2 separate regions of the Homo sapiens genome follow, and region 1 is linked to region 2. Evidence: fine-mapped expression QTL. Tissue or cell type: monocytes. Region 2 holds a variant in brackets; the other region holds the start of a gene. All regions are shown on one strand. Distances are from middle to middle.

The links. PIP is the estimated chance that this variant, and not a neighbour inherited with it, causes the effect.
Region 1: it holds the start of ZDHHC17, and the variant in region 2 is fine-mapped to the expression of ZDHHC17 in monocytes (TOPMed, PIP 0.96). The same link has a PIP of 0.9 or more in whole blood.

What each region holds. Positions count from the first base shown.
Region 1 is chr12:76,759,719-76,767,816 of GRCh38, forward strand. It overlaps ZDHHC17 (zDHHC palmitoyltransferase 17), which reads left to right and starts at 4,397. Exons shown (of 17, transcript NM_015336.4): 1 at 4,397-4,611. The coding sequence starts at 4,519. RefSeq lists enhancers at 3,895-3,994, 4,291-4,585, 4,561-5,403, 4,595-4,744 and a silencer at 4,135-4,544.
Region 2 is chr12:76,531,858-76,539,966 of GRCh38, forward strand. The region is part of intron 1 of OSBPL8 (oxysterol binding protein like 8); the gene reads right to left. Among named protein-coding and RNA genes, the nearest start is that of OSBPL8, 24 kb to the right of the region's middle. The variant T/G (reference allele first, on the strand shown) is at 4,352.

The DNA of each region.
Region 1 (8,098 bases), 230 kb after region 2:
GGTAGAAGGATATGGGGAGGTGCTGTTCAATGGGTATAAAGTTTCAGTTATATAAGACGAATAAGGTCTAGAAATCTGCTGTACACCATTGTGCCTATGGTTAACAATACCCTATTGTGCACTTAAAAATTTAAGAGAGATCGGCCGGGCACCGTGGCTCACGCCTGTAATCCCAGCACTTTGGGAGGCCGAGGCGGGTGGATCACGAGGTCAGGAGATCGAGACCATCCTGGGTAACGGTGAAACCCTGTCTCTACTAAAAATACAAAAAATTAGCCGGGTGTGGTGGCGGGCGCCTGTAGTCCCAGCTACTCGGGAGGCTGAGGCAGGAGAATGGCGTGAACCTGGGAGACGGAGCTGGCAGTGAGCCGAGGTCGCACCACTGCACTTTAGCCTGGGCGACAGAGCAAGACTCCGTCTCAAAAAAAAAAAAAAAAAGAAATTTAAGAGAGATCTTGCGTCAGGTGTTCTCACCACAAAAAAACCTTTTTTTTTTTTTTTTTTTTTTTTTTAAGACAGAGTCTTGCTCTGTCGCCCAGGCTGGAATGCAGTGGCGTGATCTCAGCTCACTGCACATGCCGCTCCCGGGTTCACGCCGTTCTCCTGCCTCAGCCTCCCGAGTAGCTGGGACTACAGGCGCCAGCCACCATGCCCGGCTAATTTTTTGTATTTTTAGTAGACATGGGGTTTCACCGTGTTAGCTAGGATGGTCTCGATCTCCTGACCTCGTGATCCACCCGCCTCGGCCTCCCAAAGTGCTGGGATTACAGGCGTGAGCCACCGTGCCCGGCCCACAATAAAAAAAATTAAATGGACCAAGTAATAATTCATTGAGGATAATAACAACAGAAGAAACGTGGTAGAGGCAAAGAGTAGTAGATGGGGAAAATTCAGGAGGCTTCCAGATGATTCTGCTACCACCTAGTTTTGTAACTTTAAGAGAGTTTCTTAAATTCCCCATCATTTCCTTTTTTGTGAAATGACTAAATCTGGATAATCTCTATGCTGTCTTTAGCTCCAGTAGTGTCTGAAGTTACATATGAAACTATATTTATACAACAATGCCCCATGCCTTCCAATCTGTTTGCTTCTAAATCCATTTCACAATTATTCTCTAACAAGGTCTATTTTTCTCTTTGAATTTTATTCTTTTTTAGCCACTATTCTGCATTCCTCCATAATTCTATGCCATTCTTTTGCCAGTCTATCCAATCAGTGTACTTTCTTAGCTGTCTCCTTAGTCCCCTGAATATATTTTCTCAATTTGAGCTATAGATAAGAACTCTACAGTTATCAAGATGGACTCTGATCATATCTAAAGGGTTTGCTTCAAGATTCAACTTCAACATGTTTTCCTAAGCATGCCTGCTTCTGCTCTTGATCTCTTTCTTCAGTTCTTCATTTAATAACTATTTATTTTAGTGCTCCAGCAGTAAGCAAGACAGACATGGACCCTGGTTATGTTGTTCCAACTTTTCGGCTGCTTTTAGTATTTTCCTTATATTTGAATTGTGGAATTCTCAGGAGTAAAAATATCCACAGAGCCAGGCAGGTAATGAGAACGAGTAAAGCAGGCCATAGACCTGGTAGAGACTGAGCAAGAAGGTCAAGATGGCTTGTTTGCCAGATGAACTAGAACTCTAGATTTTAAAGTGAACTCTGATTTACTGATTTTCGCAGGGAAGGCTAAACATTTCTTTTATGAATACTCCACATCATATACCTGTACCAATATTCCTAATACATGGGTACCTGAAACATTTTCTCCAGTTTTCCATGCCTAGTTTCTTTACACTCTCACTTCATTCAATGCTTTATTAATATTTATGCCACTTAACTTTTTCAGTCGGTGTCCTTTATTTACTCTAATCTTCTATTTCTAGTCAATGCAAGACATAAAGGTAAGGAAGGGCAAGATTCAAAATTGAGATTTTTGGCCGGGCGCAGTGGCTCACGCCTGTAATCCCAAGATTTTGGGAGGCCGAGGTGGGTGGATCACGAGGTCAGGAGTTCGAGACCAGCCTGACCAACATGGTGAAACCCCATCCCTACTAAAAATACAAAAATTAGCAGGGCATGGTGGCGCGCCCTTAATCCCAGCTACTCAGGAGGCTGAGGCAGGAGAATCGCTTGAATCTGGGAGGCAGAGGTTGCAGTGACCTGAGATCTCGCCACTGCACTCCAGCCTGGGCCGCAGAGCAAGAAAGACTCCGTCTCAAAAAAAAAAAAAAAAAAAAAATTGAGATTTTTGGCTGGGTGCGGTGGCTCACGCCTGTAATCCTAGCAATTTAGGAGGCAGACGCGGGTGGATCACCTGAGGCCGGCAGTTCCAGACCATCCTGACCAACATGGAGAAACCCTGTCTCTACTAAAAATACAAAATTAGCCGGGCATGGTGGCGCATGTCTGTAATCCCAGCTACTTGGGAGGCTGAGGCAGGAGAATCGCTTGAACCTGGGAGGTGGTGGTTGCAGTGAGCCGAGATCGAGCCATTGCACTCCAGCCTGGGCATGAGTGAAACTCAGTCTCAAAAAAAAAAAAAAAATTGAGATTTTTGAGTGAAAATGACTTATGTCCATGTTAACATATGACTGAAAACAATTCGATGCTCCAAGGGCCGACCCTGAGACTATCTAGCTGTAAAAGATGACTCCTAGTTTGGGCCAGGACGAACAGAATGAAAATCAGCTCGGACTGAAATGAGAAAAAGTAGTTGTGCTGGGAGGACAGATACAGAAAAAGCCAGCAGCAAAGTTAACTGAGAAACTTCTTTCTCCCACAGCCGTGCAGTAGCTATGACACGCCATATTCACCCCTCTTTGAGTAACTGCTGCTCTTACTAGTGTTGCTACTTTATTACTGGAGGTACCTAATTACTAAATTGCTGTATCCTCAAGACAGCATCCAATCCCTCGTAAATCCCAGCTTTTCTTCATGCCGCCACGGAAACGGCGTCCCATGCAGAACTGATTCTGGCTCTCCTTAGACCCTCCTCAGACTCCTTTGGCGGGAAACTAATCTTACAAAGGAGGCTTCCTCTTTCCTTTTCCAGTGGCATTCCAAGCTTCCTTTGGAGTGCCCTCCCTCCTGATTTACAAATTGGCCTGACGTTATCGGAGTACAGGCTTTTTCCTGGTGGTTTCTGGCCTAACAGGAGACAGATTAGTAAGTACCAGGATCTCTAATAGGTCAACTTTCATGATCTCTGCTAAATTCTCAGCTGTTTAGACTTACAATTTTTAACAGCTAAAAGGAAAGACAAATGCTATCTAAAACTGTCCCATCAGCCCATTTACAGGGAGCACCTCCCCCATACCGCCCTAAAATCCTTTAAAAAATGGCTTTAGTCATTTTATCTGCCTTGCATTTAAGCGAATTCAGTTTAAGTGGCTTCAGTTCTGAATTCCTGGATTATATCGAAATGTTGCAGATGGCGGTGTGTGGGCTTTGAGCTCGTAAATTTTTTGTGTGGTACTAATTCAAGACGATTGAGAGCAGGTTGGGATCATTTTAAAAAGAGTTCTCGGCAGGGTGTGGTGACTCAAGCCTGTAATCCCAGCACTTTGGGAGGCCGAGGCGGGCGGATCGCTTAAGGTCAGGAGTTCGAGACTAGCCTGGCCAACATGGTGAAAACCCGTCTCTACTAAAAATACAAAAATTAGCCGGGCGTGGTGGCGTGCACCTGTAATTCCAGCTACTCGGGAGGCTGAGGCAGGAGAATCGCTTGAACCGGGAGGCAGAGGTTGCAGTGAGCTGAGATCGCGCCATTGCACTCCCGCCTGGGCGGCAAGAGCAAAACTCTGTCTCATTAAAAAAAAAAAAAAAAAAAAAAAAAAAAAAAAAAGGGTTCTCTAGTAGGAAGTCCCGAGTTGTATCCATGTTTTTCCGGGCGTCCCCCGGAGGGACAGGTTGCGGGTGACCTTTTCAAGTGTGGAGGAAAGGGAAGCTGCTTTTGTCTTCAGGAATGATGCAGGTCTCGACTCAAGCCTGACGGGCCCAAACCTCCCTGGAGCTGGCTGACGACTCTGCCCGAGTTCCTGAAGAGGGGTCCCGGGGGTCCCGGAGCGGAAGTGGGAGCGCGTGGGCGTGGGCTCCTCGGCTGCCTGGGGCTCCAGACTTGTGCTGCGTGCGGCTCCGGAGCTCTGTTCTCGCTCCTGAGCAGCTGCTAGGTTTCCCAAGCGACTGTCTCAACCGCCCGGCCGCCTCCCCCGGGCAGCCAGAGCTTCACATCTACCTCCAGCCGGGACCCGCCCCCGAGCCGCGGGGCCCACGCCCAGAGCCCTCCGCCGTCCCCAGCGCAGTGCAGCAGAGCGCGATCCAGTCTGGGGCCGGGCCGCGCTTCCGCGCACGCGCGGAGAAACCCGCGCCCTCCGAGGGGGGAGGGGACAGAGGGGGCGTCACGGGGGCAGGAGAAGAAGGAGGAGGAGGCCCGCGTCGCCTCCGGCGGGGCTCGCGCTCGCCCCGCGCTCGCCCTCCGCCTCGCCCGAGCCCCGGGAGGGTGAAACGCTTTCTCCCAGCATGCAGCGGGAGGAGGGATTTAACACCAAGATGGCGGACGGCCCGGATGAGTACGATACCGAAGCGGGCTGTGTGCCCCTTCTCCACCCAGAGGTGAGGAACCGTGCTGAGTGGATTCCTTGCCCTGCGGCCCTCCAGCCTTTCTTCCCCGGACTCGCCGAGGGCGGCGGCCGACGTGTGTGGGGTAGTGGGACGTGCCGAAGTTGGGGAGGGTGGGGAGGCGAATCCAGGCCTGAGCGCGGCTGCGAGCGGATAACGGGGGAGGAGATAGCGGGGCGGGCCCGACCGGGGCGGGCTCTGGGACGCAGTCCCTGGCTGTGCCTGGAGGACAGAGGTGGAGGTGTTGATGGTTCTGCTGTGTCGCCGCGCTGCGTTTGAGAGCAGAGGCGGAGGGGCCTGGTGTGGTTTTTGAACCGCAGCTTAGACCCTAGTCTTGCTCCAAGCCTCTTGGGGCCAGGTGGAAGCGCGTCTGGTTTTGATTTCTTTTTCCTTCGCCAGGGTGAATGACGGTATCTATTGCTTCCTTTTAGTCCACTGTGAGGGGACAGTTTCATGGGCATAGTGATGTCCTTCCAGGTAATGCCATGGGTAGCACCTCGGGCACCTTGTGTCGGGCGTCCTTTTTTGAGCATTTGTCCTTAAGCGATTAAGAAGAGAGGTAAAAACTTTTGGGAATAGACTTACACTCACATTAGCTTGTCAAAGTACCGTTTTTCTAGGAGCTAGGGGTGGACAGTGCAACACGTTTCCCATCACAACATGAGTGTCTTCCCATGTAAGTAAACAGTGCCCCGCTCCACAGTCAGTCAGTCTGTGCTTGTTTACCTCCGAGTTTGTAGCTGAGCTAGTGCTAGTTAAGGCTTGGAAGCAATTCTTGATGCATTCTGATTTTTAGTGATCCACAGTGATGTCTGTATGCGGCAGCGGCACAGTTTGCTGAAGAACTCGGGTAGTTTTCATGAGGTTAAAAGATGACAGTCGTGTTGTAGGATGAACAAACATGGAAGTCTCTACCTGGTTACTTTGCAATGGAGTGATTCTGTTTTTTTCTGGATTTGGGTTTGTACCATGCCACTAGTTTTTGTTAAAAAGTGAATAATGACAACCATCCTTTTATGTTGCATGTTAACACTCAACCACCCTCTCATTCGTCACTTTGGTTTATCAAAAACACATGGGACAGTTCCTTCGGAATATATACCTGTGCCAGTCTCAGTAGAAAAGGCTACTCTGGGTTTCTGATAAACAGAACTATACAGTAAGACTAAACACTTGTCTGACCAAAGTGGTAACATTTTCAGAACTGGCATTGTAGACATCTCTTTTGGTTCACTTAGGCCCTAACATACGTCAGGAAATAGACAAAGTAGTTTTCAGATGTTGCCTTGAAAATGTTGCTAAGTGATTTCTATTCATCTGTTCCTGTGAAAGTATTCGTGAAAGTATTTCAAACACTTAAGTGTTTATCCAGTTTATTTTTTTGAGACGGGGTTTCTCCCTGTCCCCCAGGCAGGAGTGCACTGACACGATGACAGCTCACTGCAGCCTCTACCTCCAGGGCTCAAGTGATCCTCTCCCCTCAGCCTCCTGAGTAGCTGTGACCACAGGCTCGCGCCACCATACCCGGCTGATTTTTTTATTATTTGTAGAAGAAGAGGTCTCCCTATGTTGTCTAGGCTGGTCTTGAACTCTTGAACTCAAGTGGTCCTCTCACCTTAGCTACTTAAAGTGCTGGGATTACAGGCATGAGCCACCATGCCAGGCCTATCTTACGTATTTTAGCATACTGTTCTTCATAAACCTTTGCTTTGTAATATAGTACTGTTGTTTGCTACTTTAAGAATAATTTTAACTGGCAACAAATCCAGATTATTTGGTGTAGTAGAATGGCCAGTATAGGCTTGAAATTTAGCTACCGATCTTCAGGTTGCCATTCGATAGATAGGATATTACTAGAAAGTCAACCTCCTCATCATTGATAGTGGGAATTGGCATACATAATATATACCGTTCCTTTTTACCCAAGAAGCACAAGGTCTGATTATTTTAATACTTTGGATGGACCTTAAGCTTGTACTACATGGCTGAGGTCTTTCTGCATTTTCTGTGGTTAGTGTGTGCAGCTGGTGCAGACCTGGGGTAGTTCTGCTGCCTCCTAGCAGTGTGTTCTTGGGCAAGCTATGAATACGTCTCTGAGTTCTAGTTTCATCATTTATAATGGATAAAAATAATAGTTAATAAGCTATAGCGAGGATTAACTGAGATAATATGTTTTTGTTGTTAAAATAAGCAGTGTTTTCAGTCTCCTTTGGGAAGAAACCCATTCTCTGTCTTGGTAAGTAATGAAATAATAGTACTTTTAACCTCTTTTTGGAGAGAACATAGACTTTGGGTCAGACAGACTTGGATTCTAATTCTGGAAATTCGGTAACTAGCTAAGTGACCTGAGACAAGTGCTTAATTTCTTTAAGCTTCAGTTGTAATCAGAAAATGGAGATCCTGGCTGGGCTCGGAGGCTCACACCTGTAGTCCCAGCACTTTGGGAAGCCGAGGTGAGAGAATCACTTGAGCCCAGGAGTTCGAGACCATCCTGGGCAACATGGCAAAACTCTGTGTCTACAGAAAATACAAAAATTAGCTGAGCATGGTGGTACACGCCTGTAGTCCCAGCTAATCGGATGCTGAGGTGGGAGGATTGCTTGAGCCTGGAAGGTTGAGGCTGCAGTGAGCCATGATCGAGCAGCTGTACTCCATCCTGGGTGACAGAGCAAGATTATGTCTCAAAAAAAAAAAAAAAAGAAAAGAAAAGAAAATGGAGATGCTGCCTAGTTTACTTGGCTGTAAGGGATTAAGTGAGGCTATATGTTGAGGGTCAAGAACTGGCACATTGTAGGTGCTCAGTTAATGTTACTTCTTTTTTCTCTACCAGAAGAAAGGGAAGTGTTACACATTTATTTTGGTTTTGGTGACTGATTTAAAACTTATGTGGGTTTTAATTTAGTGGAATAGGATCTTGCAGGAACAAATTTCATTTCACTTTTTATCTTCCAATTTAATACTCTCACACAAAAACAGTTTTTCACTTTAGTATTTGTTAAGCAGATGAATTATTTGTGGGTAAAGAAATGAGCATTGCTTAAATCTCTTATTAGTATGCAAACTGCCCACTGTTAAAACCTTTCTTAGAGGATTATACAATTAGATAAACGCCTTTTTAGAGGTATTTTAGGTAAGATAATCTTACTTTTTAATGAATTAAATCATCCACTCATTTAGTTGGTCATTTAAACATTTGTTTGTCATGTTTGGGTAAGGAATTGTGCTGGAGTCTGTGTGAGACTTCAGGATATTTTTGGTGTTCAGTGAGAGGCAGTGTAGAATACTGGTTAAGAGCCAAAGTTGGCTGGGCGTGGTGGCTCACGCCTGTAATCCCAGGGTTTAGGGAGGCCGAGGCGGGCGGATCACCTGAGGTTCGGAGTTCAAGACCAACCTGACCAACATGGAGAAACCTTGTCTCTATTAAAAATACAAAATTAGCCATGCGTGGTGGCACATGCCTATAATCCCAGCTCCTCAGGAG
Region 2 (8,109 bases):
AAACCCCATCTCTACTAAATATACAAAAAATTAGCCAGGCATGGTGGTGGGCACCTGTAGTCCCAGCTACTCAGGCGGCTGAGGCAGGAGAATGGCGTGAACCCAGGAGGCGGAGCTTGCAGTGAGCCGAGATCGCGCCACTGCACTCCAGCCTGGGCAAGAGAGCAAGACTCCTTCTCAAAAAAAAAAAAAAAAAAAAACTGACCAAAAAATACACAGAAATTGACAAATCTGTTCCTTAAAATTTTTCTTTTCTAAACAAAAATTTTTGTTGTGGACTGTATCTGAGGCACTATATTCTCTAAGAAGAGAAAAAAAAACTGTACTCCTTCAGCTGAAATAACATTCTAATTTCTCTGATATTCACCCCCAATTAAACTAGGTGGTATCAGAAAATGAAAAGCACTTAATATATTTAAGAAAATACCATAGTGAAAAAAAATCACTATAAATTATCTATTTTAAGCAAAACTATTTGATGTTGCTCAAACAACATAGCAAAACTAGATCATTTCACTTTATTATTTGTTAAAAATCATCTCCCTTCGTCACACACTGAATCTATGAAGTAATTAATAATGAATACAATGAATGCTTATATGTATTAGGATCATGGCAAATCTATAAAGGCTGAAAGGCTTGGGTTCAGCCAATGAAGTTAATATTGTATTATAAGATTTCTAAAAATGTTATATCCACCTAGAAACTACGGCAGTATTGGATTTTTGTTTTAACCTGTCCGGACCCATTTCCCCTTCCTCTGTTAACATCCACCTTGATCTTCTTTTGGGAAAGGAACATCCCTCCTCCAACATATGCAATCTTGGTACTCCACGCTCTCCTAGCAAAAGGAGTGGACAAAAAAAAAAAGAGCCAGACCAATCAGTCCATGCCTGTCTCTCTCTCTCTGATAAATGTGAATCACAAGCAGAGTGATCACGTGAATGAAAAACAATCACAAAAAAAACTATCCTAATGGGGGCTCCACAAAGATTGTTGCTTTCTGCTCTCTAGATCCCTAAAGCTGTTCAAATGTCTACTATTTCTAAAACTCCATTTTTCATCTTGGAAGAAAATGAGCTTATCATCCTAGTAAATCATTTAAGTTACCCAAACCTTTCTATTACTTGAACCGAAAAACCCTAAATTGATATAGGTACTATTTAACACATTTGTAACCAAAATAGTCTACCTTTGAATAAGGAAATAAAATAAAAATTAACTTCAAAATATTTTTAAATGAATTTACAAAAGTAAAATCAATGTCAGACATAGAACATTTTAAAACACCATATATCCTATCATAAGAAAAAAATACAATAGCATAGTATTCATTTATGTGTTTCTTGCTAGGTTTTTAAACTCCATTACATAAGACCTATCCTATAACCATATGCAAGAACCAGGTTTTTTTTAAGACCAGGTTTTGATAATAATCATAAGGAGAAAAAAATGTTTACTCAGGAATGTAATCTCTTCTTCAATTTTCATTTGGATCCTACTACTCAAGGTGCCTTCTCTGGAGCTCCTGCTTCATTTCCTCTTACCCACTATCAAATGAAGGATTTGCGGTAAACTTCATGATTAGGACTAAGAAGAAAAACATTTCTAAAAATATCTATTTGAGCAGCTGACTGATGTTTCCATTTGTCTGACTGATCTTGCAATCCACTGAAGTCTTTATGAGGCAAACACAGGAGCAGACACAAACAAGTGATGACCAGCCCTCCAAAAGCACTTAACAACGATCAGTCTATATCAACAACTTAAAGGCGAGAAACTCAAGCGCTCAGAAATGAGATTATTAACCTCATCTCCACCTCATTACCTACCGGTTTTCCAAAATTCTAAGCTGTTATCAAGTGCAAAGCTTAGAAATGTCTTTCAAAGGACAAATGTGATTTCAGTAGGAAAAAAAATACATCTATATTCCTACTATAGCCTGGGACTTACTATTCATCAAAACAAGTTAATTCAAATGCATAACCAACATCTATAGTCATTTCCAGTAGGTGAGAAATGAGGCAAAATAAACAGAAGATAAAATCTCTATCTAGGAAAGCACACGATTTAATCGGAAAGACCAAAAATACACGTGAAATAAAACATTCATATATAATCAATATTATAATTGAATATGCTACATTTTACCTTTTCTCCTAATATTTTTACTGTAAACTAAAGTGGTTTAAGAAGGGGAAAATACCTGAGTGCTATTTTGAAACCAGGAACTGTATTCATTAATGAGATTTTTTAAATGTCCATTTATATGTAGTCAGAAACAAAATTAAATGCAATTTTTATCTAACATTTTTCTTCAATTCAACATGTTCCCAATTAACACACACTATAGTTTGGCAACTGCCATTACAGTACCTCAAATGTTCCTGCAAAAGACTGCTTCAGGCAAGGATAGGAATGTTTCTGTTAAAGAATGGGCGAAGAAGGAAAAGAAACACAATTTTAAATTGAAAAGTGTTACAATTTCATTTCCTGTCAAGTATCAGACGTGGTATTTAAACACAGGGCTTCTGGTACACACTTTTGTTGCTGCAACCCCAATTTACTGACCTTGTCAAAAATCATATACTATTGGAATCTAGAGTTGCTTACTACCAATAACGGGCTAAAGAAGAATACCAATTGCTGTCTAATTCCTTCCGACTAGCTGAAAGTACTTTGCTTCTTCCTTAATATATACAATATCTGCATTGGAAAATAACAAGCAGGAAGTCCCTGGTGGTGGCAACATCTTGGAAAGCAGAAACTCACAAAAAGAAACAAATGAAAAACAAAAATCAGCAACACATACACACAAGCAATGAGGTCAAGAGAGTAAACTATGCAAAGTTTTTTTACTATTTTCGAGATGATGTTGGTTTGGAAGATTTACACTACCTTCAAAACTTACAAAAACATTCAAAATAATGTGGTACTAGCATACCGCACATATATCAATGGAATAGAATAAGGAGTCTAGAAATGGACCCATAAACAGAGTCAATTAATTTTCAACAAAACTGCCAAGGAAACCCACTGGGAAAAAGAAAATACTTTCAGTAAAAACTGGATATTCATTAAAAACAACAAGAACAACCAAAACAGCCTGGCTTTTATACTAAACAAAAATTAACTCAAAATGAATCACAAATCTAAATACAAAAGCCAACATTATAAAACTTCTAGAATAAAAATGGGAAAATAAAAATTTGTAGACAAAAAAATTCTTAAGATATGCAAAAAATATAAACCATGAAAGAAAACAGATATGCTAAATTTCAAAAAATTAAATTACTTCTCTTTAAAAAGTTTTTAAAAAAGGCAAGACATAAACTGTTAGAAAATATGCACAACACATATATTAGACAAATGACTCAGATTCTGACTATATAAAGAACCTTCAATAAGAAATCAATAAGAAAACAATTTTTTAAATGAATAAAAGATTTAAACAATTTACAAAAAAAAATACAAATGGCTAATAAATCCAAGAAAAGATGCTTACTACCACAGTCATCAGCGAAACGCAAATGAAAAACCACAATGAGATACTATTACACAACCACTAGAATGTTAATTAAATTTTTTTAACTGAAAATGTAAGTGTTGATGAGAAGGGGAGCAACTGGAACTCTCATACATTGCTGGTGAGATGCAAAATGGTACAGCTACTCTTAAGTATTTACCAAAGAAAAATGGAAACATGTCCACTCAAAAATTTGTACATGGATGTTCACAGTAGCTTCATTTACAATAACCGAAAATTACAAACAAGTCAAATGTCTATCAAAAGGTGAATGGATAAACAAATTGGATATTCATTACAATACTGTAATAGTATTCCTATACCATGGAATACTATCCCAAAATAAAAAGGAATAATCTCAAAAATATGCAGGGCAAAATAAACCAGACAAGAGTACATACTCTATGATTCCGTTCATATGAAATCTTAGAACAGACAAAAGCAATCCACAGTAACAGAACCCGAATCAGTCATTGTCTGACATAGAGTAGGAAAGGGAAAGATTAAGTTCAAAGGGCACAAGAGAATTTTGGGGACTGATGGAAAGTTCTATATCTGTATCTATTGTGGTAGCAGTAACATGGGTGTATACATCTGTCAAAATGAATCAAACTATGTACTTAAAATGGTTTCATTTTATTCAGGTGTAAATTATACCTGAATAAAGTAGTTTGGGTTTTTTTTAGTATTTTTTTTAAGTGATATTGGGGGGGTGTGAGGTGGAAAGCAGGAAAGACTACAGAAGTAGCGAAAGGCAAAATGATGCTGTTTAAGTAACAATGTTTAAAATCAGAAAAAATGTAAAAAATCTAGCACAACTAGGCC[T/G]GGTGTGGTGGCTCACACTTGTAATCCTAGCGCTTTGGGAAGGCGAGTCGGGCAGATCACCTGAGGTCAAAAGTTAGAGACCTGCCTGGCCAACATGGTGAAACTAAAAATACCAAATACTAAATACTAAAATACTAAATATTAAATACTAAAAATACCAAAAAAAAAATCAAGCCCAACTAAAACCAAGAGTGTAACTGAGATAATTAATTTTGTCTGTAAAAATGGGAATAACTCACAGGATAGCTGTAAAAAATAGATGAGATAGTTAATCTTATCACTGTACTACTTAACACTATGTATGCTGGTAAATTACAGCAACACAATTCATATTAGTTGAATTTGTATCTACCCATGGTAAGTGTTAAGGTGAAGCAAAGAAAATAAGTAAAAGTAACATGGAATAAATCCTGAAAGAATTTCTAGAGGAAATTATCTTAAGATGCCACTTTTGAAAAGAGAAAAGGAAATGGGTGGAAAGGAAGGAGAGACCTACAGGTGGAGGGAATGGTAATGTGCAGAAGAACGGAGGCGGAAAGGAGCAAGTCATATGTATGAGATGGCAAAATTAGCATGCCTGTGGCAGCAAATCCATATATAGGAGTATCAAAAAAAAAAAAAAAAAAACGAGTAATCTTCCCATCTGACGCGAACACTCATTTAAATGTTACAGTAGGACCCAGAAATGTAACTTCATCCAGTGGATGCTATGATACATGATAAATATATTCAACCATTTAAAACAGAGAAAAATAAAAAGTTCTATCTTTGTGTTTAAAAAATGAGAATGCTTACAATTACCAGCTTCAGTCTCTTGGAGGTTAGCCACAGTTCTTCCCAAAAGAAAAAAAAATTATAATTATTAAAATATAATTATAGCTAAGCAACATATGGACTTGCTGTGCAGCTGTCCCTGTGCTTCTGAAACTATGAAAGCCTTTACATTTTGCAAAGTCTGATTTCTATAAATGACTGGTATTTGGAAAATAAGATACAAGAAAATCTGCCCAAGTAACTAATCAGCTACAACAAGAATTATTTCATAGCATACTACTTAAAAGGTATCAAGACACTAAAATTGTATTTCAACAGACATAGTATGACCAAGATCAGGATTCCTGGGCATTTATAACTTTAAACTGTTTTTACATTTATACATTTAAACGTGTTTAATTAAAGAATGCAGGGTTACCACTGTTATGATGTGCAAACTAACTTAAATCTTAAGATTTTGCTTATAGAACAGTGTTTCATATACAGAAAAGTATTATTTTCAATGTCTTATCACTGAGAAGAGATAACAAAGATAATAGTTATAGTAATAACTTGAGCAAATTAAGTTCTCTGAATGAGAGAAATCTACAGAAATGTACGATGAGAGAGATTCACAATGAGAAATAAAATATTAAAGGACAACAGGCCAGGCACGGTGGCTCACACCTGTAATCCCAACACTTTGGGAGGCTGAGGCAGGTGGATAACTTAAGGTCAGGAGTTCAAGACCAGCCTGGTTAACATGGTAAAACCCCGTCTCCACTAAAGATAGAAAAATTAGCTGGGCATGGTGGTGGGTGCCTGTAATCCCAGCTACTCAGGAGGCTGAGGCATGAGAATCACTTGATCCCAGGAAGCAGAGGTTGCAGTGAGCTGAGATCGTGCCACTGCACTCCAGCCTGGGCAACAGAGCAAGACTCCATGTCTAAAAAATAAATAAATAAAATAAAATAAATAAAGACAGTAATACTGACCTTTAAACGCAGTAGCACCAATGGAGATTGCTGAGGACAACAAAGTTACAGGGTTAAATTAATTTAAGTCTCTTTATTGAGAAAGGCTGTTATATAGTGGCAGTCAGCTAACTAACAAGGTTTTATCTGCTCCATCTACATCAAGGCCATACCAATTAGAGACCTTGACTCAGAGTAGAGAATGTAGAGGTTAAAGAATAACCTTAACGACTTTTGCTTTTTGAACCCATATATTATACATCAATGTAGTCACTAAAATATTTACAAACACATAAAAATTTGATGTGTTATATTGCTCAGAATCATGAATAATTTTTCTTTTCATGATAGTATTTTACACTATTAAATACTTTTTAAACCACTAACTATATATTCACTAAAAGTATATATTTATTCCTATTTTAAGAAACACAAATTGGAAAACAATTCTTAATAATAAGATTAGCAATAAAACACTAGTCAAGACCTGTCACTAACTTTTGTTTTTTTGTTGAAAGAAGATTTTAGGAATGTGACACAGCTATAGATTATTTTTAAATGAGGATTATGAAATATTTTAAATCAAACACCTGTAAGAATGATTAAAGGGATGACAGGCAACATGAGAGCAAGCCCTTTAAGTATAGTTCAAAGGCTTTATCATTGTAAACAAACTTATTTAAAGGTAAGAAATTTGTCTATGGGACATCTATATTATTCAGAACTTTGAGACCCAGTGCAGTGGCTCACACCTGTAATCCCAGCACTTTGGGAGGCCAAGGCAGGCAGATCACTAGAGGTCAGGAGTTTGAGACCAGCCTGGCCAACACGGTGAAATCCCATCTCTACTAAAAATACAAACATTAGCCGGCTGTGGTGGCACATGTCTGTAGTCCCAGCTACTCGGGAGGCTGAGGCAGGAGGCTGAACCTGGGAGGCAGAGGCTGCAGTGAGCCAAGATCACAACACTGCACTCCAGCCTGGGTGACACACCAAGACTCCATCTCAAAAAAAAAGAAAAAAAGAAAAAAGATTAGAACTTCGAGGATGAAGTTCAAAATTGAAAGGAATAAAAAAGGAATGAGAAGTCCTAAGAGCCTGCTATTAAATAACTGGGGGGGGGGAGGGGGAGGGTAAGTATCCTGAATCTCTTACTTAGGGTAGGAAGTATATTTTGAACCACCTACCTTAAAACCATGCCACCCAACAGCCACACAGAGAAAAAAAAAAGACAGATATCAACTTTTTTAAAAGTAAATTTAAATTAAAGCTCTGCCTAGGGAAGCCATTGTTGGAGTCATTCATTTTCTCAATATTCTTCTCTATGCGTATTTATGTCTCTGTTTTAATAAAACCCTATGCAGAAAAAATAAGTAAAATTTTTAAGTGTTTAAGCAAAAAGTCAAAAAGGGCAAAGAAATTTAAACATATGTAAAGGTAACAAGAAAATATTAGAAAAATAAATGCCAAAGTTTAAGAATAAGAGTGTACAAAATGTCAATGTACTAAGAAGACTATGGACAAAGATAAAAACAGATAAAAATAAAAGGAAATACAAATGAAAAACTAAAACAAAATAACATCAGCAACTTAAGACACTGAAAGCAAGAAAACAAAAGCCATCTTTCAATCAACGTAATATTAATAATGTAGCAATGTTAATTCAAAAAATGAACACCTTTACCCAAACACTCTTCAAAGACTGCTTTTCCCTCCTAAGATTTTTCATGAAAACTTTAGTTAGCAAATAATCTCACGATAAAAAGCCGAAGAGTGAAGAGCACAGCTCCTGGTCTCATACCAATGGCTACTATCCCTAGTGCTCCGGCTTTTCTAAGACACTTATACAAGAAGATAGCACGATCCCTCAAAGAATGCTGAGCAGGCCGTAAGTGCCATTTGTCTAACTTCCCATGAGCAGTCAACGGGTACAACCAAACATAGACCCATACACATCCCACATCCCCTAAAAAAGTAGTCTGGATTTTCAGTCAGAAAACAGTCGGCTTCAAGGAAGCTTCTTTTTTTAGG